Linked DNA regions of Homo sapiens: region 2 is linked to region 1. The links come from fine-mapping of genetic effects on gene expression. A gene starts in region 1. The other region holds a variant in brackets. All regions are shown on one strand. Distances are between the middles of the regions. Region 1 holds the start of DHX34 (DExH-box helicase 34). Region 2 overlaps DHX34 (DExH-box helicase 34).

Region 1 (15,642 bases):
CCCTAGAAAACATTTCTCAGGAAGCAGCCTCATTCTTTTTGAGACAGGGTCTCGCTCTGTCACCCAGTGGCATGATCTCGGCTCACTGCAGCCTCCACCTCCCAGGTTCAAGCAATTCTCCCACCTCAGCCTCCTGAGTAACTGGGATAACAGGGGCGCACCACCACTCGAGCTAATTTTTGCATTTTTAGTAGAGACGGGGTTTTACCTTGTTGGCCAGGCTGGTCTCGAACTCCTGACCTTAGGTGATCCACCCGCCTCGGCCTCCTAAAGTGCTGGGATTATAGGCATGAGCCACCACACTCGGCTCGCACTCTCTCTCTCTCTTTCTTTTCTTTCTTTTTTTTTTTTTTGAGATGGGATCTTGCTCTGTTCCCAGGGTGGAGTGCAGTGGAGCCATCTTGGCTCACTGCAACCTCGACCTCCGGGTTCAAGCAATTCTCCTGCCTCAGCCTTCCAAGTAGCTGGGATTACAGGCGTGCGTCACCATGCCCAGCTAATTTTTGTATTTTTAGTGGAGATGGGATTTCACCATGTTGGCCAGGATGGTCTTGGGCTCCTGACCTCGTGATCTTTCTGCCTTAGCCTCCCAAAGTGCTGGGATTACAGGCACCAGCCACCGTGCCCGACCCATTCTTTCTTTTTTTATGGCTGCTTAGAAGGCAAATTGATGGGCATCCGGAACCAGAAATCACAAGAGACAATGAAGTTCTTCCTGTAAGTCTTGACTATACAGACAAGGATAACTCACTAGGACAGTGTTTCTCAATTAGGGGTGGTTTTGCCCCAGAGGGAACATATGGCAATGTCTGGAGACATTTTTAATAGTCACAACCAGAGGAGAAGACTACTAGCATCTAGTGGGTAGGGCCAGGGATGCTGCTAGATATCCTACAATGCACAGGACAGCCCCCACGACAAGGAATTATCCAGACTGAAATGTCAATCTTGCTGACTTTGAGAAATCCTGCCCAGTGAGATGGCAGAGTAATGACAAAGGAGGAGCCCGGATCCCTGAATGACCACATGGAACAGAGTTGCCCAACAGCCTGGACCAGCCACACTGTTATATGAGAGAAATAAACTTCTCTTATTTGAGACTTTACATTTTTGGGTCTTTTTTTTTTTTGAGACAAAGTCTCACTCTGTCACCTAGGCTGGAGTGCAGTGGCGCGATCTCGGCTCACTGCAAGCTCCGCCTCCCAGGTTCACGCCACTCTCCTGCCTCAGCCTCCCGAGTAGCTGGGACTACAGGCACCCACCACCATGCCTGGGTAATTTTGTTTTTGTGTTTTTAGTAGAGATGGGGTTTCACCATGTTAGCCAGGATGGTCTCAATCTCCTGACCTCGTGATCCACCCACCTCGGCCTCCCAAAGTGCTGGGATTACAGGCATGAGCCACGGCGCCCAGCCATTTTTGGGTCTTCTTGTAACAGCTTTTACTCTAACAAGCACTTAGCACTCTAACCAGCTGATTATGAATGCTCAGAAAATGGTAGCTTTAAAAAAAGAGAACATCTTTAAATGAAAGAGATGGGAGATACAGCAGCAGAGAGAAGAGGCATGTCCAGGTTTGGACAGAGACCAGGTTGGAGGTCTGGGGATGTGGGAGGAGGGGGAAGTACTCACCGTGATGGGGAACAGCCTCCCAGGCACCTGTACCACAGGGGCATTGCTGAAATAGCTGGAGAAGAGCGAGATGTTGATGGTGGCCGACATGAGGATGACCTTGAGGTCAGGCCGCGTGGGCAACAGGCGCTGGAGGACGCCCAGGAGGAAATCGTTGTGGAGATGCCGCTCATGGACTTCATCCACAATCAGGACCTCATACTGGGGCAGGCTGGGTTCCCGCTGGATTTGTCGCAGGAGCAGCCCCACTGTCAGGAATACAATCTTGGTGGCCGCCGAACGTGTGCTCTCAAAGCGGATCTGGTAGCCGACCTGGGGTGGGAGAAAGAAAGGATCAGGAGAGGACCCTGAGCCTGGGTACCAGCCCCTGGCCCTGCCCAAATTGAAAATCTAAGCAGGCCGGGTGCGGTGGCTCACGCCTGTAATCCCAGCACTTTGGGAGGCAGAGGCGGGCGGATCACCTGAGGTAGGGAGTTCGAGATCCGCCTGACTAACATAGAGAAACCCCATCTCTACTAAAAATACAAACAAAATTAGCCGGGCGTGGTGGCGCATGCCTGTAATCCCAGCTACTTGGGAGGCTGAGGCAGGAGAATCACCTAAACCCGGGAGGCGGAGGTTGCAGTGAGCCAAGATCGCACCATTGCACTCCAGCCTGGGCAACAAGAGTGAAACTCCATCTCAAAAAAAAGAAAAAGCAAAAAGAAAATCTAAGCAAATACCATGCCTACCCATCAGACTCTGGAGTCCAACAGCTTGGGTTTGAATCTCACCTCTGCCACTTAGTGCCAACTGACCTTGGGCAGGCAATGCCATCCCTTATAGTTCTCCTCCTAGATGCTGTGAGAATTCCATGTGACAATGCACAGAAAGTATCTAGCACTGTGCCTCATGTATATATAATATTAACTATATAGCAATAACCTTTTCTTGAGTCCCTGCTATGTGCCAGGACATTATATGCCACTCTAAGTGCTTTATGTATATCAACCCATTTCATCCTCATGACCACCATGAGACAGAAGGACTATTATTGGCCTTCCAAGATGGCAGTTTGCATTGCAGTGATCGTCAAGAATTACCCTCGCAGCCCAACGTGGTGGCTCACACCTGTAATCCCAAAACTTTGGGAGGCCGAAGTGGGTGGATCACCTGAGGTCAGGAGTTTGAGCCCAGCCTGACCAACATGGTGAAACCCCGTCTCTACTAAAATTACAAAAATTAGCTGGGCATGGTGGCGGGTGCCTGTAATCCCAGCTACTCAGGAGGCTGAGGCAGGAGAATTGCTTGAACCCGGGAGGCAGAGGTTGCAGTCAGCCAAGATCGCACCAATGCACTCCAGCCTGGGCCACAGAGTGAGACTCCGTCTCAAAAAAAAAGTGATGAGCCTTTAGGACATTTCCCATTGTTTTGCTGTTAAAGTGCTACACTGGTTAATGCTAGCTCCTTTGTCATGTAGACCACAGACAAGCCACTCTGTGGATAAAGTTCTAGAAGAATCATCGCTGGGTCCAAGGGTAAGTGCTTCATTTTTATTGATACTGCCATATGGACAAGCAACCTATTCCCCCAAGGTCACGCTGGAAAAATCGGAAACCTGGTGCGTCCCACTCACCTGTGAGCCATACTGACTGAGGCTCTCAAAGCCCACACGCTTGGCCAGTGAGATGCAGGCGATCCGCCGGGGCTGGGTGCACGCCACATGACTGAAGCCAGCAGCCAGCAGGTACTGGGGCACCTGAGTGGACTTGCCACAGCCGGTGTCACCGGCCACTACCACCACCTGGTGCTCCTTCAGCGTCTGCAGGATGCGGTTCCCATACTGGGCGATGGGGAGGGCTGCCCGCTCACGCTGCAGCTTGGCCAGACGCCCAAATGCCTGCTTCTGGCCAAAGTCCAGGTAGTGCAACAGGGCTCGGCGGAACTCAGCCACTCTCTCCGCGGGCAAGTGCCTGCCCAGTCCCTGAGAGCCCCGCGTGGCAGGGCCAAGAACAGAGAGGTTGATGCGGTAACGTGGGTCGTAAGTGCGAGGTAGGTCGGCCAGCGCTGGGATGCTGTGCTTGGGCTGTCCAGGGTCTTTCTCCTCCTTCCTGGAGGTCTTGAGATTCTGGAATCTCTGCAGGCGTTCAAAGAAGGTCCAAAACTTCTGACATTCCTCAGAACCCTGACGGATGTAATCCTCTTCACGGAAGAAGGCATCTTCCAAGAGGCGACGCGTCTCTGGACAATTCCAGTCCCATTTCTCCAAGGCCTCTTCCTCGCTGGGAGCCCGGTGGTGGTCTCGGCGATCCCTGCCCTCCCTTGTTCTAGGAGGAGGCATGTTACTAATCCACAATAGGAGTCTCAGTTCTGATCACCCAAAACAAATATTCTCATCCATTCCCCACCTGCAACAATTTAAGAGGCCAGTGCCTGCAATAGAGAACTACTTTCTCTTCAAAGAGCTAATTTTTCCTCCTGGTCACGGCACAGGACCACCACAGATGATAAAGTGGCCAGAGGCCTGCTTGAGCTGGTGACACAAAGGGTACCTCATGACATCTGCAGTGATCTCTGGGATGGACACAAGTTCATTCTGGGTTTTCAGGCCCTGGATTCTTAAGAGAGAGAACAGAAGACATTAATTCTCTTTTGGGAACATTGCTTTTTTTGGTTTTGTTTTGTTTTTTTCTTTTTGAGGCAGGGTCTCACTCTGTTTCCCAGGCTGGAGTGCAGTGCCGTAATCATGGCTCACCACAGCCTCGACCTCCTGGACTCAAGCGATCCTCCCGCCTCAGCCTCCCGAGCAGCTGGGACTACAGGCACATGCCACCACACCCAGCTAATTTTTTACTGTTTGTAGAGATGAGATCTCACTATGTTGCCCAGGTTGATATCAAACTTCTGGGCTCAAGCAATTCCCCCACCTTAGCCTCCCAAAGTGTTGGGATTACCAGTGTGAGCCACCATGCCCAGCCCATTTTTAGAAACATTTCTAACAGCCTGTTTCTTAAGCACTGAACTAGAAAAAGGAGGTAATGAATATGACTACCAGAGTCCTCACAGACGGCCATGATCACATGATCTCTCATGTGACACACACGTCATCAGACTGTGACAATCCAGTGATGGGGACTGTGATAACAGAATCCTAGGGAGCTGTGGGACACCAAAGGAGGTTCCTCCTCCTTCCCATGCTTGGGAATCAGGGAAGGATCCTGGGAGGAGGGGATGTTTCACCTGAGACCTAAAGGAGAGATGTAGGTCACATGGCCAACCAACAGCAGAACCTTGTCTCCACAGGCAGTAATAGGAGAGAGGTGTGATATAATGAAAAGAATAAGGCAAGGGTTCTTCACCCGGGGTCCAGTGAGATTCAGAACATTGAGATAAAAGGCAAAATTTTGCAAGTGTTATATGTAATTTTTGCCTGCCTGGCACAACCCTTTACTTCTTTTCTGAGGACAGTATCCACCTTCCTTTGGACAACAGCCCTTCCTCGATTCTACATGGTTCTGAGGGCCTTTAAGACAAAGAACCCCTATTGGGTAGGCAAGTAACAAAGACCTGGCCAGTCTTAGTAGTCTACTCCCCCTCTAACCAAGGATTGGCCTGAGAAGCGGACACATGATCCAAGAAGGGCCAATCAGGGCCCTTTTGTGGAATTTACACTCGGTTGCTAGGACAGAAAAGCTCTCATTTTATCCATCATAATCAGGCAAGTTTGATATAAGCCTGGAGCTCTTTGTGGTAGCTCTGGAACATGACAGAGTCTTTCCTAAAATCTATCCTAGAGAAATAACTAGATACAGGCACAAGAATGGTCACTGCACCACAGGGAGAGGTGAAAGAGGGAGAGGAAGAGAAGCTTGGCAACATCATTTAGGTCTTGAAGCTTAGTTCCCTTCAACCCCCCACTTCTCAGCTACACCAGAAAATGCCTTTTTGCTTACAGTTGGAGTCTTTTTTGTTTTGAGATGGAGTCTTGCTCTGTCACCCAGGCTGGAGAAAAAAAATTAGCCAGGTGTGGTGGCGGGCACCTGGCTACTCGGGTAGTCCCAGCGACTCGGGAGGCTGAGGCAGGAGAATCACTCGAACCCTGGAGGCAGAGCTTGCAGGAAGCCAAGACTGAGCCACTGCACTCCAGCCTGGGCAACAGAGCGAGACTCTGTCTCAAAAAAAAAAAAAAAAAAAAAAAAAGAAAAAGAAAATGAGAGCATTCTTCTGAGGCTAGAAACTGCTTATGCATGCTGGGCCCCACTGACAGCATCCCGCTCCTCTCAAGGTATCTATCTTTTTTGGCTTCTAGATTGTCTGCATCTTCTAGTTTCTGTATAACTGTGTCTCTGACCATCTTTTGGTCTCTTGGCCTATTTGCCCTGGGCTCATGGCCTTCAGTGGGTTTGTTTCCCCCTCTGTCCCCTCCATCTCTCTCCACTCCATCTTCAGGCCTCTGTCTCTTTTTCAGTCCGTCTTGTTCATCATCACCCTCATCTCTCTTCCCTGTCCTAGTCAGCTCGCATCTCTCTTCACTTATGAGTCATTCTGTAGTCTGATTTTTCTCTGTAATCCAACTCTTCCTTTCTCCATCTCTCTTCAGTTCTCCATTTGACTTTCTCCATCTTTCTCATTAAAAAAAAAATGCTTTTTCAGGCCGGGCATGGTGGCTCACGCCTATAATCCCAGCACTTTGGGAGGCTGAGGCAGGCAGATCACCTGAGGTCGGGAGTGCGAGACCAGCCTGACGAACATGGAAAAATCCCGTCTCTACTAAAAATACAAAATTAGCCAGGGTGGTGGCACCTGCCTGTAATCCCAGCTACTCTGGAGGCTGAGGCAGGAGACTCGCTTGAACCCAGGAGGCAGAGGTTGCAGTGAGCCAAGATCGCACCACTGCACTCCAGCCTGGGCAACAAGAGCGAAACTCCATCTCAAAAAAAAAAAAAAAAAATTCATTTTTGTTTTTTTGAAACAGGGTCTCACTCTGTCACCCAGCCTGAAGTGCAGTGGCACAATCACGGCGTACAGCAGCCTCGACCTCCCAAGCTCAAGTGATCCTCCCACCGCAGCCTCCCAAAGTGCTGTGGATGACAGGAGTGAGTCACCACGCCCTTTCTCATTTTCTGTTTGAATCTTTTTTTCCTCCCTTTTGTCCTTCCAGTATTCACTCTCCATCACCACCTCTCTCCATTTCCCCATCTAATACTTTATCTCCCAATATCAGAAGCTTTAGTAATAGCTCATGCTTACTTACTCACATTAACACACAGACCTATCCTATCTGCATGATCTATTCCTATCCCACACCTATGTACATACACACACACACTTTTCTCACGACTGTCAGGCACTATGATCACCCCCTATTTTACTGAGCAATAGAGAGGCTAAGTGAGTAGCCGAGTGTTACATGAGCCACTCAAATCCAGGGGTTCGGGCTCCACTCCCTCGCTTTTCCATTTCTCAGCATCGTTCTCCATTATCTCCAGCTTTTGTGGGGTTCTTCCTATTTCAACTGTCTCCATCCTTCCGTATCTCTCGGTCTCCCCCGTGATTCAGTGTCTCGTTTCTCCATCTAAATTCCATTTTTTCTGTTTCTAGTGTCCACGATCAGTTTCCGACTTTTCCCTCCACTCCCCAAGTTCATGGGCGACCACGCCTCTCGGCCTCGTGGGCTCTAAGACTCTCGCTGGAACCCATCGGCACTCTCGCCCACGCTCTCTAGTTTTCAGCTTCCCTCCTCTCCCAACACCCTCGTCTTTCAGTCCCTCAGTTTCTCGAAGCTTCTTTTCGTGCCTCCATTTCTTTCGGTCTCTGGCCTGTCGCCCAGGTTCTCCCAGGGACGCTCAGGTGCCATCTCTGTCCGCGTTTGCCGGCCCTTCGGCTGCCTCCTACATTTCTCCTCATCTCGAGACTTCCCTCGCCCCTGGACTCGCACCCCAAACTACCCCCAAGCGGCCCAACTCCGACAGCCATCGCCGCCACAACCCGGTACACCCGTCCCGCCCCCCTCACTTACCACACGCCGCGAACGCCTTAACTTCCGGTCCCAAGAGCGCTAGTCTTGCGCCTGCGCACACAGCCATCTCGTTCTGACCCCGCCCCGCCACCACAGAAGAGCCAATCGGAAGCTCTGGGCTGCCCAAGACCCATCTTGCGCCTGTGCACAGCACGCTTCCGCCCCGCCTCGCTTGGGGCGGAGCCTCGAGTGATTGCGCCCTCTAGAGGCCAGTAGAGGCATTGCGGTACAGACTTGCAAGCGCCTCCTCCCCGGCCCCGCCCTCTCCTCCCCAAGCATAGCCACGTGCGCCTCAGCTCCGGGACGCCGGGGTTTTAACCCAAAGAGAGAGCTGGTCTGGGGCCCAGGAACTTTTTTTTTTCTTTTGAGACATAGTCTCACTGTCTCCCAGGCTAGAGTGCAGTGGCGTTATCTCACCTCATTGCAATCTCCGCCTCCCAAGTTCAAACCATTCTCCTGCCTCAGCCTCTCGAGTAGCTGGGATTACAGGCGCACACCACTACACCTGGCTGATTTTTGTATTTTTAGTAGAGACGAGGTTTCACGATTTGGGCCAGGCTGGTCTCCAGCTCCTGATCTCAAGTGATCCGCCCGCCTTGGCCTCCCAAAGCACTGAGATTACAGATGTGGGGCATCTCACTCAGCCTCTACCTCTTTTCTTTCTACAACCCCATTTTCTGTTACCTTTCTCTGCAATAAACTCAATCACACACATTCAGGAAGACCCCCAAGTATAGAAACAATCTCATTAGCCAGCAATGCACCCTCTCTTTTATTAACTGAAAGAAGAAACAGCTGGGCACGGCGGCTCACGCCTGTAATCCCAACAGTTTGAGAGGCCGGGGTAGGTGGATCACCTGAGGTCAGGCGTTCCACACCAGCCTGGGCAATATGGCCAACCCCTGTTTCTACAAAAAAATACAAAAGTTAGTCGGATATGGTAGTGTGTGCCTGTAGTCCCAGCTACTCAAGAGGCTGAGGTGGGAGGATCGATTGAACCTAGGAGGCTGAGAGACTGAGGCTGCAGTGAGCCATGATGGTACCACCGCACTCCAGCCTGGGTGACAGAGCCAGACTGTCTCAAAAAAAGAAAAAAGTGTTGTTGTTTTTTTTTTCTGAGACGGAGTCTCGCTGTCGCCCAGGTTGGAGTGCGGTGGCGCGATCTCGGCCCACTGCAGGCTCCGCCTCCCAGGTTCCCGCCATTCTCCTGCCTGAGCCTCCCGCATAGCTGGGACTACAGGCGCCCGCCACCACGCCCGGCTAATTTTTTGTATTTTTAGTAGAGACGGGGTTTCACTGTGTTAGCCAGGATGGTCTCGATCTCCTGACCTCGTGATCCGCCCACCTCGGCCTCCCAAAGTGCTGGGATTACAGGCATGAGCCACCGTGCCTGGCCAGAAAAAAGTTCTATGTCTAAAAAAAAGAAGGACTCTAAAGTTTTTGGCCTGAGCATTTGGAAATATGGAGTCACCATCTACTACCATCAGGAAGACGTGGGAGAGAGGCTAGAGAGAAAATCCGAAGATCTGTTTTCAGCATATTGTTTGAGTTATGCATTGGACATCAACTGGGGATGTCAAGTGGAACGTTGGATATAATTATCAAGCCTCTGGAAAACAACTTAGAGATAGAGAAGCCAATTCATACATTATTATCAAAAGAAGAAGAATAAATGGACTAAGCATTCTGCTTAAAATTTCCAAACAAGGCCAGGTGCGGTGGCTCACGCCTGTAATCCCAGCACTTTGGGAGGCCGAGGCAGGTGGATTACCTGAGGTCAGGAGTTCGAGACCAGCTAAGCCAACATGATGAAATCCCGTCTCTACTAAAAATATAAAAAATTAGCCAGGCATGATGACGGACACCTGTAATCCCAGCTTCTCGGGAGGCTGAGGCAAGAGAATCGCTTGAACCCAGGAGGTGGAGGTTGCAGTGAGCCAACATCGCATCATTGCACTCTAGCCTGGGCGACAAGGAGAAACTCTGTCTCAAATAAACAAACAAACAAATAAATAAATAAATAAATAATCCAAACAATAATTATAATTTTTAAAAAAGGAAAATTGGAGGAAATGAACAACAAATGGAAATCAACAAGAAAGCCACAGTCTATCAACCATAGGATTGTATAGCAAGCTTGAGACTAGTTCTTAGAGAAATTATTAATAACTTGGTTCTTTGAAAACTTAAGGAAATCAATATTTCTATGGTAAAAAAACAAATAGCAGAAATAGACAAACTTTAGAACAAAAAAGGGAAGTTATAGCAAAACAGATGGCTTTTAATAATCAAAGGTATTTTATGTAACATTGCACAGACTTAAATTTGAAAATTCCCGTGAAATGTATTCCAGTTCAAAAAAGAAGGGCTAATGATCTACAAAATGAAAACATTTCAAAAACCACAAAAGATGTTTTGTAAAAGTTATCAAAGAATGCTCCTAAGTGGCAACTGGTCCCAATAGATTAATGGGAGGATTTTGCAAACTTTAAGCCCCAAAGCGGGGTTTTAGCCCACGAGGGTTCTTGGCTTTGCCCAGAAAAGAATTCAAAGGTGAGCAGGGGCAAGGCAGGGGAAAACAGCTTGCTTTCTTTCCTTCCTTCTTTCTGTCTTTGTGTCTTTCCTTCTTTCTTACTATTTTTTTTTTTTAGACGGAGTCTTGCTCTGTCACCCAGGCTGGAGTGCAGTGGTGTGATCTCGGCTCACTGCAAGCTCCGCCTCCTGGGTTCACGCCATTCTCCTGCCTCAACCTCCCGAGTAGCTGAGTCTACAGGCTCCCGCCAACACGCCTGGCTAATTTTTTGTATTTTTAGTAGAGACAGGGTTTCACTATGTTAGCCAGGATGGTCTTGATCTCCTGACCTCAGGTGATCCACCTGCATTGGCCTCCCAAAGTACTGGGATTACAGACATGAGCCACCACGCCCAGCCTATACCTATTTTTAGCCTATACCTATTTATATAGGTATAAAAATAGCCTATACCTATTTTTAATTACATGTAGATTAAGGGGCAGTTTATGCAGAAATATCTAGGGAAGGGGCAGTAACTTCTGGGTCATGGGGTCATTGCCATGGGAAGGGGCAGTAACTCCTGGGTGTGTTGCCATGGCAATGGCAAACTGACATGGCACACTGGTAGGCGTGTCATAGAAAGTTGCTTCGGGCCAGGCGTGGTGGCCCACACCTGTAATCCCAGCACTTTGGGAGGCCGAGGTGGGCAGATCACCTGAGTCAGGAGTTCAAGACCAGCCTGGCTAATATGGCGAAACCCCATCTCTACTAAAAAATACAAAAATATTAGCTGGGCATGGTGGCATGCGCCTGTAGTCCCAGCTACTCGGGAGGCTGCGGCAGGAGAATCACTTGAATCCGGAAGGTGGAGGTTGCAGTGAGCCGAGATCGTGTCACTGCACTCCAGCCTGGGTAACAGAGCAAGACTCCTTCTCCAAAAAATAAAAATAAATAAAAATAATAAGTTGCTTCAGCCTCCTCCCTGTTTTAGCTGGTCCTCAATTTGGTCCAATATTCGAGCCGAGCCCCATCTCCAGAGTTGAGTCCTGCCTCCTACCTCAAAGGAGCTGTATAAATTGTTCCACAACAAATTTTATTTTACAAGACAGCCTTGGTCTTAATTCACGCATGATAATTCAGAGTAAAATACTAAGTAATAAAATATCAGGCCGGGCGTGGTGGCTCATGTCTGTAATCCCAGCACTTTGGGAGGCCGAGGCGGGTGGATCACCTGAGGTCGGGAGTTCGAGACCAGCCTGGCCAACATGGAGAAACCCCGTCTCTACTAAAAATAAAAAAAAAAAAACATTAGCTGGGTTTGGTGGCACACGCCTGTAGTCCCAGCTACTGGGGAGGCTGAGGCAGGAGAATCGCTTGAACCTGGGAGGCGGAGGCTGTGGTGAGCTGAGATCGTGCCATTGCACTCCAGCCTGGGCAACAAGAGTGAAACTCCGTCTCAAAAAAAAAAAAAAAAAAAAAAAGTGATACCAGTGCTTTCTGACTGAGCTCCTGTCTACCCTGAATCCAATAGATCCTAAGAGTTAGGCAGGTATATCGTCACCCCTGTCCAGCCTGAAGAAGTCACAGAAGTTGTATCTTCCTCCCTCTACAACCCTTAGGATTAAAGGTTCTCTTATAAAAGGGAGCGGGGAAATGTCAGAGGCATGTGAACCAGAGTGACTCCATCTTGAACAGGAGCTGGGTGAAATAAGGCTGAGACCTATGGGCTGCATTCCCAGGAGGTTAGGTATTCTAAGTCAAGGATAAGGCCGGGAACGGTGGCTCATGCCTGTATTCCCAGCACTTTGGGAGGCCAAGGTGGGTGGATCACCTGAGGTCAGGAGTTCGAGACCAGCCTGGCCAACATGGTGAAACCCTGTCTCTACTAAAAATACAAAAATTAGCCAAGTGTGGTGGCAGCGCCTGTAATCCCAGCTACTCGGGAGGCTGAGGCATAAGAATCGCTTGAACCCGGGAGGTGGAGGTTGCGGTCAGCCGAGATCGTGCCACTACAATCCAGCCTGGGTGACAGAGCAAGACTTCATCTCAAAAAAATAAAATTAAATTAAATTAAAAAAAATTAGTCCAGTTGTTACCCTTGGGGAATTTACAGTTTAGCTGGGACCTTGTGTTCCAGAGACTCAGAGAAAGGAAGAGCCCATTCTTTCTGGAAGGAGCATAAATCAGGGAGGGCTTCCTGGAGGAAGTGACATTTGAGGGACGCCTTGAAGGAAATTATTGATGATGAAGAGCAAGAGCATTGGAGTCAAAACTGGGATCAAATTCCAGCTGTCTGGTGTTCTTGCTGTGTGATCTTGGGTAAATGACCTCCCCTCCCAGGACCTCAGCTTATAAAATGAAGCATGCCACCCTATCTCCCTGGGCTGTTGTGAGAATGACCTTAAAGGAGAAACTATATGTGAAGTGCTGTTCTGGAGTAATGACCGCAGACACAGGTATCACTACTATGTTATTTATTTATTTATTTATTTAGCGGCAGGGTCCCGCTCCGTCACCTAGGCTAGAGTGCAGTGATGAGATCACGGCTCACTGCAGCCTCAACCTCCCAGGCTGAAGCAATCCTCCCACTTCAGTCTCCCTAGTAGCTGGCACTACAGGCATGTGCCACCAAACCAGGCTAATTTTCTTTTTTTTATTTTTGTAGAGATGGGGTCTTGCTCTGTTGCCCAGGCAGGTCTCCAGCTTCTGGGCTCAAGGGATCCTCCCGACTGGGCCTCCGAAAGTGCTGGGATCACAGGCGTGAGCCACCATGCCTGGCCTACCATGTAATTTAAAAGATCTGAGCAGGTAGAGTTCAAAAGTAAATTCTAGAACAGCATTTTGTAACAGAAATCTCTGTTATGATGGCAATGTTCTATAGCTGTGCTGTCGAATATGGCAGTCACCAGCCATATGTGGCTACTGAGCACTTGAACTATGGCCAGTGTGCCCGAGGAACTAAATTTGAAATGAAAATTTATTCTTTCTTTCTTTTTTTTTTTGAGATGGAGTCTCATTCTGACATCCAGGCTGGAGTGCAGCGGTGTGATCTAAGCTCACTGCAAACTCCACTTCCCGGGCTCAAGCAATCTACCTGCTTTAAGGAGGATTGAAGCAGAAGGATTCAAGCAACTCCCTCCTCAGTAGCTGGAACTACAGGCACGCCCCACCACGTCTGGCTAATTTTTGTATTTTTTGTAGAGATGGGGTCTTGCTATGTCGCCCAGGCTGGTCTCAAACTCCTGGGCTCATGCAATCCTCCCACCTCGGCCTCCCAAAGTGCTGAGATTATAGGCAGGAGCCACCAGGCCTGGCCAATTGATTCGAATTTGAATAGCCACAGATGGCTCTTGATTGTTGAACTGCACAACATAGATCAGAAGGACATTCCAGCCAGTGGCACAGCTTCAGGAAAGATGCAGAAGCGTGAATATAGCCCGAAGGGTGTGTATTAGCTTCCCACGGCTGCTATAACAAATCACCCCAAACATAGTGACTTAAAACAATACAAATGTATTTTCTTAAAGGTCTGCGGATCAGAGGTCTAAAAGTGTCAGGAGGTCTGTGTTCCTTCTGGGAGCTTCAGAGAGAATCTGTTTCCTTGTCTGTTTCAGCTTCTGGAAGCTGCCTGCATTTCTTGGCACCTCCTCACGTCACTATGACATCTGCTTCCGTTGTCACCTCCTGTGACTGACCCTGACCCTCCTGCCTCCCTCTTAAAAGGACCCTCGTGACTCCATTGAGCCCACCCAGACAATCCAGGATAACCACCCCTTCTCAAGATCCTTTACTTAATCTCACCTGCAAAGTCCCTTTTGCCATGGAAGGTCACCTCTTCACAGGTTCAGGGGATTAAGATGTGGACATCACCGGGGGTCATGATTCTGATTGCTACAGGGTCTGAGAAGCTAGAGAGTAAGTGTGTCCAGTGGTGGAGAGAAGCCTTGAATGCCGAGCTAAGGAGCCTGGACTTGGCCTTTCCTTCAAAATAGATGCATGACCTGTCAGCCTCTCACCACCTCAGCTCTGTTACCCTGATCCAAATCGCTATCACCTCCTGCTTGGACCATTACAGTAGCCTCCTCTCTGGGATCTTCACTGCCCCTACACCATACTCTCACCTCCACCAGCAACCAGAGGGATCCTATTAAAATCTTTTGGCCGGGTGCGGTGGCTCACGCCTGTAATCCCAGCACTTTGGGAGGCTGAGGCGGGTGGATCACCAGGTCAGGAGATCAAGACCATCCTGGCTAACAAGGTGAAACCCCTTCTCTACTAAAAATACAAAAATTAGCTGGGCATGGTGGCGGGCGCCTGTAGTCCCAGCTACTCAGGAGGCTGAGGCAGGAGAATGGCGTGAACTCAGGAGGCGGAGCTTGCAGTGAGCCGAGATTGTGCCACTGCACTCCAGCCTGGGCGACAGAGCGAGACTCCATCTCAAAAAAATAAATAAATAAATAGAATCTTTTATTTATTTATTTTTTGAGACGGAGTCTCGCTCTGTCGCCCAGGCTGGAGTGCAGGGGCTCAATCTTGGCTCACTGTCACCTCTGCCTCCCGGGTTCAAAACGATTCTTCTGCCTCAGCCTCCCAAGTAGCTGGGACTACAGGCATGCGCCACCATGCCCGGCTAATTTTTGTATTTTTAGTAGAGACAGGGTTTCACCATATTGGCTAGGCTGGTCTTGAAGTCCTGACCTCAAGTGATCTACCTGCCTCAGCCTCCCAAAGCCCTGGAATTACAGGCGTGAGCCACCGCAAATGGCCCTATATATCTTTGTTTATAGTCTGTCTTCCTCCACTAGAAGAATATCAGCTCCCTGAGGGCAGGATTTGTGTCTGTTTTGGTCACTGCTATATCTCTAGTGCCTAAAAAGGCCTTGCACATAGCAAGTGCATGATGGATATCTGTTGAATGAAGGAAGGAATAAAATGAAGACATCATTGAGCTCCTGGATCCAGCTATGCCTGAAGCCAGTCTTGTGAAATGAGATAAGAAGATACACACCCACAATGTCTCTCCAGCCTACACCTCCATCTCCGAGACCAGGTCATGGCTGGTGGATTTCTTGCTGTCCACACTTTCGTCCTGGCCCTGGGACTCCCTCAGGGCCCAGTGACAGGCAGCTGGCAGTGACCGGCGGAGTTGAGCCCTCCCAAAATACAGGAAGAGCATGGGATTGAGGCAGCTGTGAGCGAGGGCAAGGCCCACGATGAGGGGTTCAGCCCGCAGGGCCCTGGCCAGGAGTGCGGAGTTCGGGGCCGCCACAGTGAGCACCAGCCCCAGCAGGTGGTAGGGTGCCCAGCAGACAAAAAACCCCACCACAATGGCTGTGCCCAGCGGCCGGCAGCGTCGGGCTGCCCAGCACAGGAGGGCACTGTGGCAGCTGGCCACGGCCACCAGGGGCCCCAGGAAGCCAAAAAGAAACCGGATGGCAGTCACCGCATTCTCGGTGCTGGAGGAGCCGCCGTAGTCCACCACACACTGCAGCCGGGCTGGG
Region 2 (15,642 bases), 29 kb before region 1:
CTCCTCCCAGAAGCTGACGCTGACACCCAGCACGTCCCCTCTGATGGGGCCTTTGTTCTGCAGAGGGAGGGAAGGGCTGGTGTTAGGGGTAGGTTTCTGGAAGCCAAATGTCCCTGGACAAAAGAATGGATATATTGTGATGAATTCATGGAACAGAATGAATGAACCAAGCCCATGCAACCTCATGTTGGGTAAAAGAAGCTAGACACAGACAGCACATTCTTGTGAAGTTTTAGAGTGGCCAGCACTAGAGGACAGATTAAGAATGTTGGTCACGGCCGGGTGCAGTGGCTCACGCCTGTAATCCCAGCACTTTGGGAGGCTGAGGCGGGAGGATCACCTGAGGTCAGTAGTTCAAGACCAACTTGGCCAACATGGTGAAAACCCGTCTCTACTAAAAATGCAAAATTAGCTGGGCATGGTGGCGGGTGCCTGTAATCCCACATACTCGGAAGGCTGAGGCAGGAGAATTGCTTGAATCCCAGAAGCAGAGGTTGCAGGGAGCCGAGATTGCACCGTTGCACTCCAGCCTGGGCGACAAGAGCAAAACTCCATCTCAAAAAAAAAGAATATTGGACACTCCTGGGAGACGGAGGAGCTGGGCTGCAGCGGGTGGAGGGCTGCTGGTGTTTTATTTTTTTATCTGGGTGCTGCTGGCACAGGTATGTTTCATCTGGGAAAATTCACCAAGCTGTTTACTTATAATTTGTGCATGTTAGCCTTCAAGAGGAACATTTTAAAAGACTGTTGAGGCTGAGCGTGGTGGCTCATGCCTGTAATCTCAACATTTTTAGGAGGCTGAGGCGGGCAGATCACCTGAGGTCGGGAGTTCGAGACCAGCCTGACCAACATAGAGAAACCCCCGTCTCTACTAAAAATACAAAATTAGCTGGGTGTGGTGACACTCGCCTGTAATCCCAGGTACTTGGGAGGCTGAGGCAGGAGAACCACTTGAACCCGGGAGGCGGAGGTTGCAGTGAGCCGAGATTGAGCCATTGCACTCCAGCCTCAGCAACAAGAGCGAAACTCCGCCTCAAAAATAAATAAATTAAATAAATACTGTTGAATGAGCCGGGTGCAGTGGCTCACACCTGTAATCTCAGCATTTTGGGAAGCTGAGGTGGGCAGATCACCAAACACAAAATTTAGCCAGGTGTGGTGGTGCACGCTTATAGTCCCAGCTACTCGGGAGGCTGAGGTGGGAAGATCACTTGGTGTCAGAAGGCAGACATTGCAGTGAGCTGAGATTGTGCCACTGCACTCCAGCCTGGGCAACAGAGCAAGACCCCATCTCAAAGAAAAAAAGTATATAAACCCCTAGTTTTAGTTAGGGAGACGGATTTGAGACTGATTTCCCATCTCCTCAGCCACGCATCTGATTAAAGCCTTCTTCCTTGGAAAGAAAGGAAGCCCATGGTTCCAGACCAACCTGGGCATCATGGTGAAACTCTCTACAAAAAACAAACAAAAAAACCTATTCACACCCAAAAATTAGCTGGGCATGGTGGCACATGCCTGTAATCCCAGGTACTTGGGAGACTGATTTGGGAGGATCACTTGAGCCCAGGAGGTGGAGGCTGCAGTAAGCTGAGATTGCACCACTGCACTCCAGCCCGGGCAACAGAACGAGACCCTGCCTCAAAAAAAAAAAAAAAAAAAAAAAAAAAAAAAAAAAAAAAAAAACTGTTGAATGGAATCTGTTACCAAAAATCAGGGGTTCAGTCCAGGTCCTGCTGCTGGTCGCACAGAAAGCCAATCACTAAAGCGAGTATTGCCAAGAAGAAGGCTTTAATGAGATGTGCAGCCAAGGAGATGGGAAATGACTCTCAAATCCATCTCCCTGACTAAGACTAGGGGTTTATATACTTTTTTTCTTTGAGATGGGGTCTTGCTCTGTTGCCCAGGCTGGAGTGCAGTGGCACAATCTCAGCTCACTGCAATGTCTGCCTTCTGACACCAAGTGATCTTCCCACCTCAGCCTCCCGAGCAGCTGGGACTATAGGCGTGCACCACCACACCTGGCTAATTTTTGTGTTTTTTAATAGAGACAGGGTCTTGCTATGTTCCCCATCCCAGTCTGGAACTCCTGGACTCAACTGATCCACCCTTATCGGCCTCCCAAAGTGCTGGAATTACAGGCATGAACCACCATGCCCAACCTTTTTTTTTTTTTCTGTTTCTAATATGGTGAATCAGATTGATTTTCAAATGTTAAATCAACCTTCCATTCCTAGAATAAGCCCCAGTTGGCCATGATGTACTGTATTTATATATTGCTAAATATGATGTGCTGAACTCCTATTTAGGGTTTTTGTCTATGTTCATAAGGCTTAGAGTTTTCTTTTCTTGCATTGTCATAGCCTGCTTTTAGCAGCAGGATAATGCTGACCTCATAACATCAGTCAGGAGGCGTCCTCCCCTATGCTGTGGCCAAGTGGGTGTGGGCGAGTATCATTTCCATGTTTGGTAGACGTCACCAGGGAGCCCATCTGAGCCTGTTCTCTTTGTTAACTATGAATTACATTTCCTTAATAGAGTTGTTCCGGTTATCTATTTCTTCCTGAATGAGCTTTGGGTAGCTAGTGTCTTTCAATAATTTTTTCCATTTCAAATGAGTGAATTTCTGTGTGGCACGTTGTTTATCGTATTCTCTTCTCCTTTTCGCATCTGTAGGACCTACAGGTTGTCCTCCTTCCATTCCTATGCCGTGCCTTCTTTTTCTCCTGAGTGATTTTATTGTTCTTTTCATTTTCTTTTTTTCTTTTAGAGATGGAGTCTCGCTCTGTCACCCAGGCTGGAGTGCAGTGGCACGATCTCGGCTCACAAGCAACCTCCGCCTCCTGGGTTCTAGCAATTCTCCTGTCTCAGCCTCCTGAATAGCTGGGATTACAGGCACACGCTGCCACGCCCAGCTAATTTTTTGTATTTTAATAGAGATGGGGTTTCACCGTGTTGCCCAGGCTGGTCTCAAACTCCTGAGCTCAGGCAAACCACCTGCCTCAGCCTGATTTTTTTTTTTTTTTTTTTGAGATGGAGTTTCACTCTTGTCGCCCAGGCTGGAGTGCAATGGCATGATCTCAGCTCATTGCAACCTCTGCCTCCCAGGTTCAAGTGATTCCCCTGCCTCAGCCTCCCCAGTAGCTGGGATTAAAGATGCCCACCACCACACCCAGCTAAGTTTTTGTATTTCTAGTAGAGACAGGGTTTCACTATGTTGGCCAGGCTGGTCTCGAACTCCTGACCTCAGGCGATCCACCCGCCTCAGCCTCCCAAAGTGCTGGGATTACGGGAGTGAGCAACCATGCCCGGCTCAGCCTGTTCTTTTATTTTTTTATTACGGGAGTGAGCAACCATGCCCGGCTCGGCCTTTTATTTTTTTATTGTGAGTGGGTCTTATGGTGCAGCCTGTGGTCCCACGTGAACACCAGTGCTCCCAGCCCCCCTGCACAACTCTCAAAGTGACCCAGGTGGATGGGCAAATTCAGGGTCCCCCTACTTCAAGGGGTAGGAGAGACTGAGGATGGACTCAAGAGAGAGCGGCTGCGGAGGTGCTAAGAACCTGCACCTGGAATCTGGAGACATGGGAGGTCCCTGCTGGCTCTAACGCCCCTCCTACCCAGGACCCCTCAGGCAGCACCCTGCAGCAGGAAGAAGGAAAGCTAGACCCTGGGGAGGACTAACAAGGCAGCTGCTGCTTTCTGGATGGGCAGGTGCAGGCCTAACAGTGTGTATCAGCATGTGAGGCTTTATTCACAATCCGTGCTCCAGGCCCTCTGCACTGGGACAGGACCACAGGGCTAAGCCCAGGCTGGGGGTTCAGGCAAGAGTCCTGCCCCTAGTCCTGGGCTGGAGGGCAGGTCAGCTGCACGGAGGTGGGCAGGGCTCCTGGCCCAGCTCACACGTGCTGCTTCCGGTGGCGCAGCACCTCTGTGGGTGTAAAGAGGAAGTCCTTCCCGCAGGCCTCGCAGTGGTAGGGCCTCTGCAGGACAGATGTCTTCTGGAGGGTTTCGAGGGCAGCTTCCTCAGCCCCTAAGGGAGGAAAAGGAGGAGGCTGTGAGGGGCGTGTTCCAGTGCACAGGTCTACCTGCACCCAAATGCCAGGCACCTGTGGGGCTCAGGTTCTCTCCTGGCCTTTGGAGAACCCAGTTTTGCCTCCTCCAGGAAGCCCTCCCAGATTAATAAAAATACACAGGTCTGTCTTTACTCCGCATCCCTGCCAGTGAGAGAGACAGAGAGAAAGACACAAGGAGAGACATGGAGACTGAGAGGCAGACACAGCCAGCCGGGGATGGAGGCATGTGGCCCCAGTGCTATCTCCCCCACTGAACCCCAGTGTGTGGCATCCCTGGGTGACAACAGGGTGGAGGTGACCAAGGCAGAGATAGCTGCAGGACAGAGAAAAATAACAAGAGACATAGCCACAGAGAGACAGAAACAGAGACAAAGACAGCAACACAGAGACACCACAGGGGACAGGCAGACAGAAAGAGGTGGCGCTCCAGGCTCTCCCTGCCTTGGGCTCCTGATCTTCAGGACAAGGCCTGTGTGTGGCACCAGCCAGGGCCAGCGGGTGGAGGTCGTCAGTCCTCGAAGCTCTAGCAAGTGCTCACACGCACAGGAGACCATCATGGGATGGGCAGACGGCTGGGCAGAGGTGGCCGGGTCCCCACAGTCCTGTGCTTACCTGGGGGCCCATCCTGTGGGGCCTGGGGGCAGGTGTTCTCATGGGCGATGCGCTCCAGGGGCGTGAGGGGCGCATGCAGGCCACAGTGGGGGCAGGTCCAGAAGGTTCGGAGACAGTCGCTGTACAGGTCTGTGTCATTCTGTGGCAGGCCAGCTGTCAGGGCTGGGCCCCCGCCAAGTGCCACCCACCACCCAAGTGCCCCCCCGGGACCCTTCCCAGAAGCCCTCAGGGCCACGGGCCCCACTTGGGAACTATGTCCCTGGACTAAGGTGAAACGGGGTGGTGGGGTCTTCCTGAAATCCCACCTTCAGGGAAGGAGGGTTCATGCTTACCGTGAGGCAGTTGTAGGTGAGGAAGTCAGTGACTGCGTAGCCCCCCTTTGTGGGGTGGGGGGACAGGGTGGAGCTGCCAAAGAGGCCAGGAAGATGGGGGGTGGCTGGGATGGTCTGGGGTCCCACATACATGTTCTGGACTTCTAGCCCTGTGAGCCGCCGGAGGCTGTAAGGAATCTAAGGAAGGAGAGACAGGAAATGGAGAGAGACAGACTCAGGGAGATGCCGCCAAAGCACCTGGATCCAGCTGTGCCTGAAGCCCTCCCTCGGGCTTTGCAGTTACGGGAGCCAAGTGCTTACACCAATCACAATTTGGCTGCAGACACACATGACCAGGGGTCTGTCTAGAATATACCTGATAACCCACCCCCATCTAAATTGCCCTCCCCAGGCCCCTCTTCTGCCCCTGTCACTGGTGGGACCCCATTCAGACCTTGAGTCTAACCTTCAAGTCTGGCCACCTCCCCCCTCCTCCTCCTAGCATGTCAGCCTTGGTCCCCTCTCCATGGCTCACTGGGTTCCTGCTCCTTTGTCCTCAAGCCCTTCTACTCCAGGAAGTCAGCCTGGATTGTACCCTTCTCCCCACCCCACCCACATGAAGTAGAACCACGAGCAATTTCCACTCCCCACCTAAGAGTCAGGGGCTGGTTTCAAGTCTGCTCAGTTCAGTTCTTCCCATCCACAAGCAGACGTCTACGGCTTCCCTCTCACACCCTGCCTGTCCTTTACTGTTAGCAAGAGGGGATCAGCCACGCTTGCAGAAGGTGCTTAGTAAACAAGGCAGCAGTGGGTAGTGTGGCCTCTGGAACCAGGCTCCTGGGATCAAATCCTAGCTCCACCCAGACCAGTGGAGTGACCTTGTGTAAGTGACTGAACCTCTGTGGCCTGAAAACCCCCAAATGTGCCCATGTGGAGTGAATGGGAAGCCAGGCCTTCCCGAGGCTCAAGCCCAGTGACGGATGCCCCTTCTGGCCATAGGGAGGCACGGGCACCCTGGTGGAGGGTACCTTGGATGCCGTGAATTGCAGGAGTTCCTTGCTCAGGGTGGCCACCTCCTTGGGGCTGACTGGCGTATCCTCCTCCTCCTCCTCCAGCTGCTGCTGGGCCTGGTGCGCCAGCTGCCGGTCCAGGGCACTTTCCCAGCGGGCACGGAGCCGCAGGGAAGCCGCCAGGAGTCGGATGGCACTTTCACTGTCTGCTAGCTGCAGCTCCAGCCAGCCATCGGCCACCAGGCGGGAGCAGTCACCATTGGTGTCCAAAGACCGGCTAAAAAGCAGGAGGGACTGAAAGAGAGGGGGCAGAAGACAGGGAGTAGGTGGGAGGGGCAGGGCGCTATTGGAGACAGGCCCTGCCCGGCTGGGCTCCTGCCCACCCACCAGCCCTGTCTATGTGAGGCATCCACCTACCCGCCATCTACCCGCTGTACCAGGCACCCCTTCGGGTGCTGGGGATACGGCATGAACAAGGCAGCCGCTGAGTCAGGGAAGGGGGCTGGGGTGGCGGGGCGGCAGATGGGAGCGTGCTGGGAGAGAGACAGCTGCATTCTCAGGCAGGGTGGCAGAGGGACAGCAGGCACTCAGACACACACGACGTGCAGGGAGAGCCCAGACCCTGAGCACACGCTCCTCTGTGAGGACGGAAGTCAGCGCTGTAATTACCAGTGCTGTGGCTCATAAGATGTTGGGGAAAATCCTCAGGGCTGGGGCCAGGGCAGAGGAAAGGGCAGGACTGGCCATGCGTGGATGGTTTGGGGACCGGGGATGGTACAGGAGGGCTCCATATACTGTTCTGCCTGCTTATGTGAATGTGAAGTTTCTCCATCTTCTTCTTCTTATTATTATTATTATTAATTTATTTATTTATTTGAGATGAGTCTCACTCTGTTGCCCAGGCTGGAATGCAATGGCGCAATCTTGGCTCACTGCAACCTCCACCTCCCAGGTTCAAGCGATTTTCCTGCCTCAGCCTCCCTAGTAGCTGGGATTACAGGCACGCGCCACCCACCCGGCTAATTTTTGTATTTTTAGTAGAGATGGGGTTTCACCACATTGGCTAGGCTGGTCCCAAACTCCTGGCCTCAACTGATCCACACACCTCGGCCTCCCAAAGTGCCGGGATTATAGGCGTGAGCCACCATGCCCGGCTTATTATTTTTTGAGACAGTGTCTCACTCTGTCACCCAGGCTGGAGTGCAGTGTCAACAATCACAGCTCACTGCAGCCTCAATCTCCCAGGCTCAAGCAATCCTCCTGCCTCAGCCTCCCGAGTAGCTGGGATTACAGGCACACAACACCACGCCCAGCTAACTTTTTAAAATTTTTTGTAGAGATAGATAGAGTCTCCCTATGTTGCCCAGGCTGCCTTTGAACTCCTGGGCTCAAACAATCCTCCCACCTCAGCCTCCCAAGGTGCTGGGATTCCAGGTGTGAGCTGGCCAGATTCTCTCAACAAGCAGTCCAGTGCAGGGAGAGAGCGCCTCAGGTAGCAGGTCTGTTCCGCTTCCTGCGGCCCGGCTGGTCGCCAATCCTCTGTCCCTCGGCCTGCGTGCTGCCTGCTTTCCCATGCTCACATGAGCACCTGGCATCACCCTTTTGGTTTGCCGTCTGCCTCTACCATCCTATCTGAGCCCCATGAGGGTGGGGAGTTTGGTTGACATTGACCACAGCTGCACCCCCGGCCCCAGAACACTGAACACTAACAGTGCCTGGCCCACCAGACGGGCTCGAGGGAGGTGTGGACAC[A/G]CACAGAAGTGACTGAGCTGAGCTGGCTTTTGTGGTGTTGGTGGCAATCGCAGTGTCAACAAAACCCTGAGGCTCTAGGAGCCTGCAGGTTCCTCTCTCCCCTCCACGTTCCCTGGGACCCAAGCCGGGGAGTGCTGGTAGTGAGCCAGGAGGCAGGAGGGGGCAGTGTGACCCAGGAGCTCTGGCTTGGCCACCTGCTCGGTGTGTGACTTAGGTGACGTATCCCCGCCCCTGCCTGAGCTTCAGTCCCCTCTATAAAGGGAGACCCACAGGGCTGCGTGAGGACTCCGAGGCCAGGCCTAGGATCACAAAGACGCTCGAGGAGCACTAGGGGCAGGGCAGTGGCTGCCATGGGGCCCATGGCTCTGCTGCCGGTGCCCATGCAAGGGCATCCATGATCTGAGTTCGGCCTCAGCCTCCACCGGGGCAGCACCCTCCTCTCCCTCCTGGCAGCTGCCAGCCCTCCTGGCTGGGACCCTGTCCCAGCTCTGAGAAGTCCCCAGGGTCCTGTCTCCCTCGCCTCTCTGGCCTCATCTCCACACGCTCTCCCTTGCTGACTGCACGCCAGGCACATGTCTGCCTCGGAGCCTCTGTGCAGGCCACCCCACTGCCTGGAACACTCTGCCCCGAGATCCACACGCTCTCCTCTTTGGGTCTCTGCCTGGGGACACCAGGTGGCCTTATCTTGTACCACACCCTGTGTCCACCCTCCCACACGTCGCTCAGGGCATCACTGTGCTACTGCTGTCACTGTCCCCTGCCACTAGAGCCCGAGAGGGCAGGGGCTGGGCTTCATGCCTGGTTCCCTGCTGCGCCCTTGGCACCTGGCACAGCGCCTGGCACCCAGCAGGCACTTGGCAGGTTAACTGTTGAGCAAGTCCATGAATGAGAGAAAAAGCAGCCACAGCAACGGCCCAAGGCTGACGCCTGCGGCCAGCCCAGGTGCCAGGTGGCCCCTCCAAGCCCACGCGGTGCCCCCACCCACCACCCTGGGCAACGCAGCTCTCATATCTGGGCATGGGGGCGGGGTGGGGCAGAGGCCCACCTGGAGGGCAGGGATGCGGACGCAGTTCACCAGGTACGGCTTGTTGGTCTCCAGCAGGGACACGAAGCTGAGGAGCTGGTGTTTGCTGCTCATCTTGTCCTTGTCGTCTGAAAGGTTGAGGAGGACCGCTCAGGCCCACCCTGGCCCACCCAGGCCCATCAGAAGCCCGCCTGTCCCACCCGGTCAAAGTACACATCGATAGAAAGAGTATGCTTACGGCATGGCTTTGGTGGCCTGGCTCAGACAAGAAGGTCAGCCAAATCTGAATGTGACTCCCAGCACGCAGCCATGCCTGCAGCGAGACACCCTTCCATGCACACGGGTGCCAGGGGGGCCTCCCTCTGCAGGACCCACCTGGGAGCTCACAGAGTCCATAGGACAGGCCCCCTGACCGGTGCTCACTCTCTGGGCACAGCCACACTGGCTTAGGTTGACTATCACCACCATGCGGAAGGTGAGGCCCAGCAGGGGTGAGTCACCCAAGGCTACCCAGGGAGGCCTGGCCCTGGAACTTCCCCTCCTGTGGGCCCCCGTCAATACCAGCCTGGGCCGGTGTGGGAGCCCCAGCCAGAGGGGCCTGGGAGTTCACGGTATCCCTGCCCCTCACATCCCGGATGGGGGTTCCTTCCGCCTGGGCTCACTGTACCTCGGCTTCCGTCGCAGTTGCTGGCCTCCAGCTCCTGTGCGTGCAGCACCTCGGGGCTGCCAGCGAAGACGCAGGTGGGGTGCAGCACGGCGCCCTGCTTGGCCTGCGTGTGGAAAATCTGCGGAGGACAGAGAGAAAGCACAAGCCCTCCTATCTGCTCTCTCCTCTGCCCAGGATGCCTCTCCTCCACCCTCTGGCCCAGGTTCCCTCCTCCAGGAAGCCCTCCCTGACTCCTCCAAATCTGGGGCAGATGCCCCCTGTGGGCTCCTATAGTGCTCTTGACTCCCCAAGCCCTGCCCACTCTGGGTTGTCTGGGGATGGGTCTGTCCTCCCACTGGGTTGTGAGCCCCATGGGGACAGAACCAGGGTTGTTTCAGTCACCACTGCATTCCCGGCACAGGACAGGCACTCAGGGTTCGTGTGTTGGAGGACAAAACATAGGATGGGGCAGAACAGGCCCCACCTGGTCTGAGTCCTTTCGGCTGCTGTTGAAGGCGTCGGGGACGGCCAGCTGTGGGTACAGGCCCCGGCCCAGCACCAGCTTCAGCAGAGCCAGCTGCTCGCGGCTCAGGTCCTGGGCTGAGCTGGCAGCGGCCTGCAGCTGCGCCAGGTCATGCCGAAGCTTGAACTTCACATCCTGGGGGGAGCACGGGGAGGCAGAGTCTTAGGGGACCTGAGGGGCTCCTACCATGATCCGCAGACCCCCAGGCTCTGCAGATACCTGGGACCAAGCACCGTCCATGGAAACCCGGCTCCTGAAATGAGGACAGGGCCATGTCCCCTGGGACCCCCCCAGGAGAGGCCAAGGCCCACCTTGGTAAACCCCCACACCCCACAGCCCATGGCGCCCACCTGGATGTCCACGCCATCACTGGCCCCTGGGGGGGCTGGGCCAGCCCTGTCCTCGTCACTGGAGCCGCCGTCCTGCTCCTCCTGCAGCCGCAGCACCTTGCGCCTGCGCCCCGCGCCCTCCTCGTGCTGGCGTTTCAGCTGGTGCAGGGCCCGGCGCTCCCGGCGCTGCTGCAACCGACTGTAGCTGTCCCCTACCTGCGCGGCCTGGGCCCCAGCCAGCAGCCCGTGGTCCTCCAACAGCTCCTAGGGGCAGGTGGGTAGGGGTGAGGGCCTCAGGGCAGACTCAGTGGGCTCTGGACTCATGGAAATGGGGACCCTCCCAGTGGCAGGGCTGCTAGTGCCCAAAGGGGGCTGAAAACAGCCCCTCGCATGGTGCTGGGCATGGATCGCTGCTCCAGAGAGAGAGCTGTCCTCGCTGGTCAGTGGAGGGAACACCGGGGCCAGGGGCAAGAGGAGGCAGGTGCGGGCGTCCAGTGCCTTTTCCCACAGCTGGCTCCAGGCTCTGCTGACTGCCCCACCTGCCCCTTGGGTCTGGGGGGCCCTGCTTTCCCACACAGCCCTGGTGGGCGTCCTGCACTAGTGCTTCTGAGTGTAGCCCTGGGGCATCTAGGCACATGCTGGGAATGCCAAGTCCTGGGCCTCATCCCAGAACGACCAAGTGGAGAGAGGAGGGGGCTCGGCGGGGTTGGCCATCTGGACCCAACAGACCCTCCAGCTGCCTGTGACCCATAAAATCTGAGACCCCTGCCCTCCCCGTGCCCACATCTTGTCAACATTCCTCAAGTGACCCAATTTGGTTGGACCTTCTGTTTCCTGCTGAGCCCTGACCGATGGAGGACACAGGAGATTGTGCGTGCATGTGTGTCTGTATGTGTGCATGTGGGTGCAAAGGGCTCACACTTTCCATTAGATTCTCAAAGCATCTGGGGACCAATGAAGCCTGAACACTGCTCTAGCAGCCAGAGAGAACTCGGGACCCATGCTCAGAGCAATCGGGGCATCTGTGGTCCCCAACACCGGGACCCCAGAAATGGTACCGGAGGTGTCGGCTGGGTGACTGCCCCCTCTGGGCCTCAGCTTGCCCATCTCCAACCAAACAGAATGGATTACACCAGGAACCCTTTTATTCTATTCTCAATCCATGGATACAACCATGGAAAAGGACCTAACAGCAGGTCTGTCTGCACTCAGATGGAGAACAGTATCTATGAAACAAGCTGCAGAACTGTGTGGGCGCAGGAGAAACCCAAATCTTTTTTTTTTTTTTTTTTTGAGTGGAGTTTCGCTCTTGTTGCCCAGGCTGGAGTGCAATGGCTCAATCTCGGCTCACCACAACCTCCACCTCCTGGGTTCAAACGACTCTCCTGCTTCAGCCTCCCAAGTAGCTGGGATTACAGGCACGTGCCACCATGCCTGGCTAATTTTTGTATTTTTAGAAGAGACGGAGTTTTACCATGTTGTCCAGGATGGTCACGATCTCCTGACCTCGTGATCCACCCACCTCGCCCTCCCAAAGTGCTAGGATTATAGGCGTGAGCCACCACGCCCGGCTGGCAAGTGCTATTTTTATCCTCTCTTTTTATCGAGGGGAAGCTGAGGCCCAGAGACAAGCAGTAACACACCCGGGGCCACGCTGTCAGAAATGGCAGAGCTGGGATCTGTGGCTGAGGTGTCTGGCTCCAGATGTGCCGGCCAACCACAACCGTAGGCTGCCTCCAACACCATGCCCATGCAGCCAGCTCAGCATCCCCAGTCCGGAGGGCGAGCTCTTCCCGAGGATGCTGCATGTCCACTGACTCGGTCCACCCCTCCAGGAAGCCCTCCTGGATTTCTGCTCCCTTTGCTCTGCCCAGCTGCCCCAACACCTGGTCACCGGGTGGTGGGGGAGGTGGGTGCAGGGTGGGATTCTGGTCTGACCACTGTCTGGGAAGGGGAAGCAGTGTTCTGGAGTGTGCTTACACACGTCTGCCTGAGTGGGGCCGGCCTTACCCCTCCTCCCGAGCCTCACCTTGAACTGGCGCCGAAGGTTGGCCATTTCGTACAGTCGATGCTCCTCTATGCCCCGGCGGCGGCACCACTTGCGAGAGTTTCTGCTCCGTTCAGATTTCACCTGGGTGGAGGAGCAGACGCCAGGGTGTCAGGGCCTGGCCAGTGCGGGGAGGGAGGGGCTGACCGAGCACCCAGAGCCCCAAAATGGGCATCCCTCAGGGACACCTGCTCTCCTGCTTCCAGGTCTCAGCCCCAGTGCCCCCTCCTATGGGAAGCCCTCCCAGACTACCCACAAACTGGGTTAGATGCCCCGCTGGGTTGTCCCAGCCCCCTGGACTCCCCATTCCAGCCCTCTCTGGGTTGTCACTGTCACATCAGTGGTCTGTCTCCCTGCACTGGGCTGTGAACCCCGGGAGGGCAGGGCCAGGGTAGTTTTGGCACTGATGGGCCCCCAGCACTACACTACAGGGCCAGGGTTAGGGTGAGGACTCAAGGGACATATACTGGATCTCCAGATGCCTCCCAAGGAGCCTGGACTTTCTCCAGGTGGCACAGGTTTTCATCAGTGCTTCAGAAACCCCAGGCTCCTCTCAGCCCCGGGCCTGGGCACATGCTGTCCTGAGCCGAAAGCATGGATGATGGAGACATGGCCCTCCCCAGGCAGGCCCAGTCTGTGGGGGGCTCAGTGGTCCTCCCAGGGTGGGGCTGAGGGTGGGACACGAGGAGGAGCCACAGCCACAGAAGGCCTTGGCCCTGAGCAGGGTGACAGACAGAGGGCCCCCACCACCAGCCTCACCTGCACCCAGGCGTTGAAGACGTTGAAGAGCGTGAAGGGGTCACCCTGGTCGCTCTCCAGCGGCCGCCGTGCTGCCGCGCACTCTGGGCTGCTCTGGGCGCTGCGGGTGAAGGGCGACTGGACGCTAAGTGCGGCTGCGATGGTGAGCACAGGCTCCACCAGGCTGAACATGGAGCCCAGGATCAGCATCTTCCCTGCAGCGGCGGACACGGGGTTGAGGCTCCTGGGTGCCAGGACAGGCGCAGCCCTCACCCCTCGGGGCCCCAGCCTGCCCTCCCGCCTGCCCTCCTGCTCCCACCCCCTCCATCTTGCCCACTAAGGGTCTTGTGACCCAGATGGAGATTCAAACCCACGCGCTGTGCTTTCTGGTCACGTGGCCATGGGCAAGGGCCTCAGTTTCCCCATTTGTAGATTGGAGATGGCCAGTCCCTGCCTCCTTGGACACACAGGAGATACTGTCTAAGCGCTGACTACTCCTGTCACCAAGTTCCCCACTTTGCTATTTACAACCCACTCCCCCAGCGCTCTGATGCTTCCCTGGCTTGGTCTTTGCTCTAGGAGCTCATTTTGACCCATCACGGTGGACGTCTCTCCTCCGCGCTAGAGTGTCACCTGTAAGTGAGTCCCTCTAGCTCTGCCCTGGCACAGGCAGGCACTGACTCCTGTGCTTATCACAGGATGAATCTTCTCCTGCAGCCTTTGTTTAGGTCAAGGTGGAAGTGGAAGAGGAAGAGGGGACAGAAGGCGAAGACATGGAGAAAGATGGGGCAGGGGCTGGGAGAGGTAGGGAAAGGGGAGGAAGGACAGAGGGGAGGCCACAGAGAGGAAAAGTGGCAGGAACCGTCTCCCAGGGTGGCCGAGTCTCACCTGGAGACAGGTGAACCCTGTCTCCATCTGTGAGCGCTCCACAGCGGGCATCTAGACATCCCCTGGTTCTGGGCGCCCGAGCTGACGCTGGACTTCTGGGGGCTCCCTTGCCCACCTGTCCAGTAACTAGTGGTCTGTGTCATGTGTCTGACCCGCCCCCACCGTTGACCTTCACTGACTTTCCATAGTGCCTGTCACAAAACTGGACTCAAGCAGATCACCTGAGGTCAGGAGTTCGAGACCAGCCTGGCAAACCTGGTGAAACTCCATCTCTACTAAAAATACAAAAATTAGCTGGGTGTGGTGGCAGGCGCCTGTAATCCCAGCTACTTGGGAGGCTGAGGCAGAAGAATCACTTGAACCCTGGAGGCGGAGGCTGCAGTGAGCTGAGATCTTGCCATTACACTCTAGCCTGAGTGAACAGAGCAAGACTTCGTCTCAAAAACCAAACAAACAAAAAAAGCTGGCCTCATAAAACAAAGGTGGCAGTAAAGCAGGGCTTGGGGCTGTACTGTGCAGGCCCCTGTCCTATTCCAGGACACCCCAGCTCTGTCACCAGGGAAAAGTGGCCCCACCTCGCCGTGACGCTGCTTCCCCATCTGTAAACGGGGGAACAACAGCATTGGCCTCTCCTCAGGCTGCCAAGAGGATGCTTTGTGTTTCACCCTGTGAAGCGTTCAGAACTCCACCTGGCACAGAGGACGCCCAGCACAGGGTCATCCGTGCCTCTCAGTTCCCACTGTGACCCTGAGCAGCAGTTCTCTGAGCCTCGTTTTCCCCACAGGGCAAGTGGGGGCACCTGCCCCCAGCCCTCAGGGAGATAATGTGAGTGAGGCATTTACCATCACCTCCGATCAAAGCCAGGCTTCCCCATGCCCTCAGGAGCCTCCTGGGCCCAGCCTCAGTTTCCCCATCTACACACTGGGGGCGATCAGAGGCCCTGCCCTCAGCAGGTAAGGATGAAATAACGGAAAGTCCACAGAGCCTTTCGCCGGCACACAGCAAGAGCTCACAGAACATTCTTCTGCTTCTCAGTTCAGATTCTCCCTGCTCTAGCCCTGTTTCCTTCCAAAACAAAAATGAAGCCGGGCGCAGGGGCTCACGCCTGTAATCCCAGCACTTAGGGATGCCGAGGCTGGCGGATCACTTGAGGTCAGGAGTTCAAGACTAGCCTGGCCAATGTGGTGAAACCCTGTTTCTACTAAAAAATACAAAAACTGAGTGTGGTGGCACATGCCTATAATCCCAGCTACTCAGGAGGCTGAGGTGGGAGGATCACTTGAACCCGGGAGGTGGAGGTTGCAGTGAGCCAAGATCATGCCACTGCACTCCAGCCTGGAGGACAGAGTGAAACTCCATCTCTAAATAAATAAATAAATAAATAAAACAAAAATGAACCATCTTCTTAGCCTGGGCAGCCCTCCAAGTCCAGCGGATCCAGCCTCCTGCCCACACTGAAGCCCTGCTGTGCTGCAAGGATGGGGGCTTTAATGGTGTTAACACACATACATGGGTGGTCCTGCCATGGTGGGCCTCAGGCTGCTGGAAATAGAAAGTCTTGAGTCAGGAGAATCAGGCAAGATGAACAAGCCTCAGTCAGTGAGCTCCCCGGGAGGGGTGAGCATGACTCAGGAATGAGGGAGAGGAAGAGTTTTGACATCCTTGAGCCCGCAAGAGAGGGGTGCGGGGC

What was found. PIP is the estimated chance that this variant, and not a neighbour inherited with it, causes the effect.
Region 2: its variant is fine-mapped to the expression of DHX34 in whole blood (INTERVAL, PIP 0.97).

The regions. Positions count from the first base shown.
Region 1 is chr19:47,341,339-47,356,980 of GRCh38, reverse strand. It overlaps DHX34 (DExH-box helicase 34), which reads right to left and starts at 7,666. Exons shown (of 17, transcript NM_014681.6): 1 at 7,629-7,666; 2 at 3,246-4,227; 3 at 1,631-1,942. The coding sequence starts at 3,950. C5AR2 (complement C5a receptor 2) reads right to left here. Exons shown (of 2, transcript NM_001271749.2): 2 at 9,652-15,642. The coding sequence ends at 15,168. RefSeq lists enhancers at 1,420-1,919, 6,922-7,826.
Region 2 is chr19:47,370,367-47,386,008 of GRCh38, reverse strand. It overlaps DHX34 (DExH-box helicase 34), which reads right to left. Exons shown (of 17, transcript NM_014681.6): 8 at 13,086-13,279; 9 at 12,309-12,410; 10 at 10,301-10,543; 11 at 9,912-10,085; 12 at 9,449-9,566; 13 at 8,803-8,909; 14 at 6,024-6,299; 15 at 5,017-5,193; 16 at 4,685-4,823; 17 at 3,305-4,029. The coding sequence ends at 3,896. Among named protein-coding and RNA genes, the nearest start is that of DHX34, 29 kb to the right of the region's middle. The variant A/G (reference allele first, on the strand shown) is at 7,758.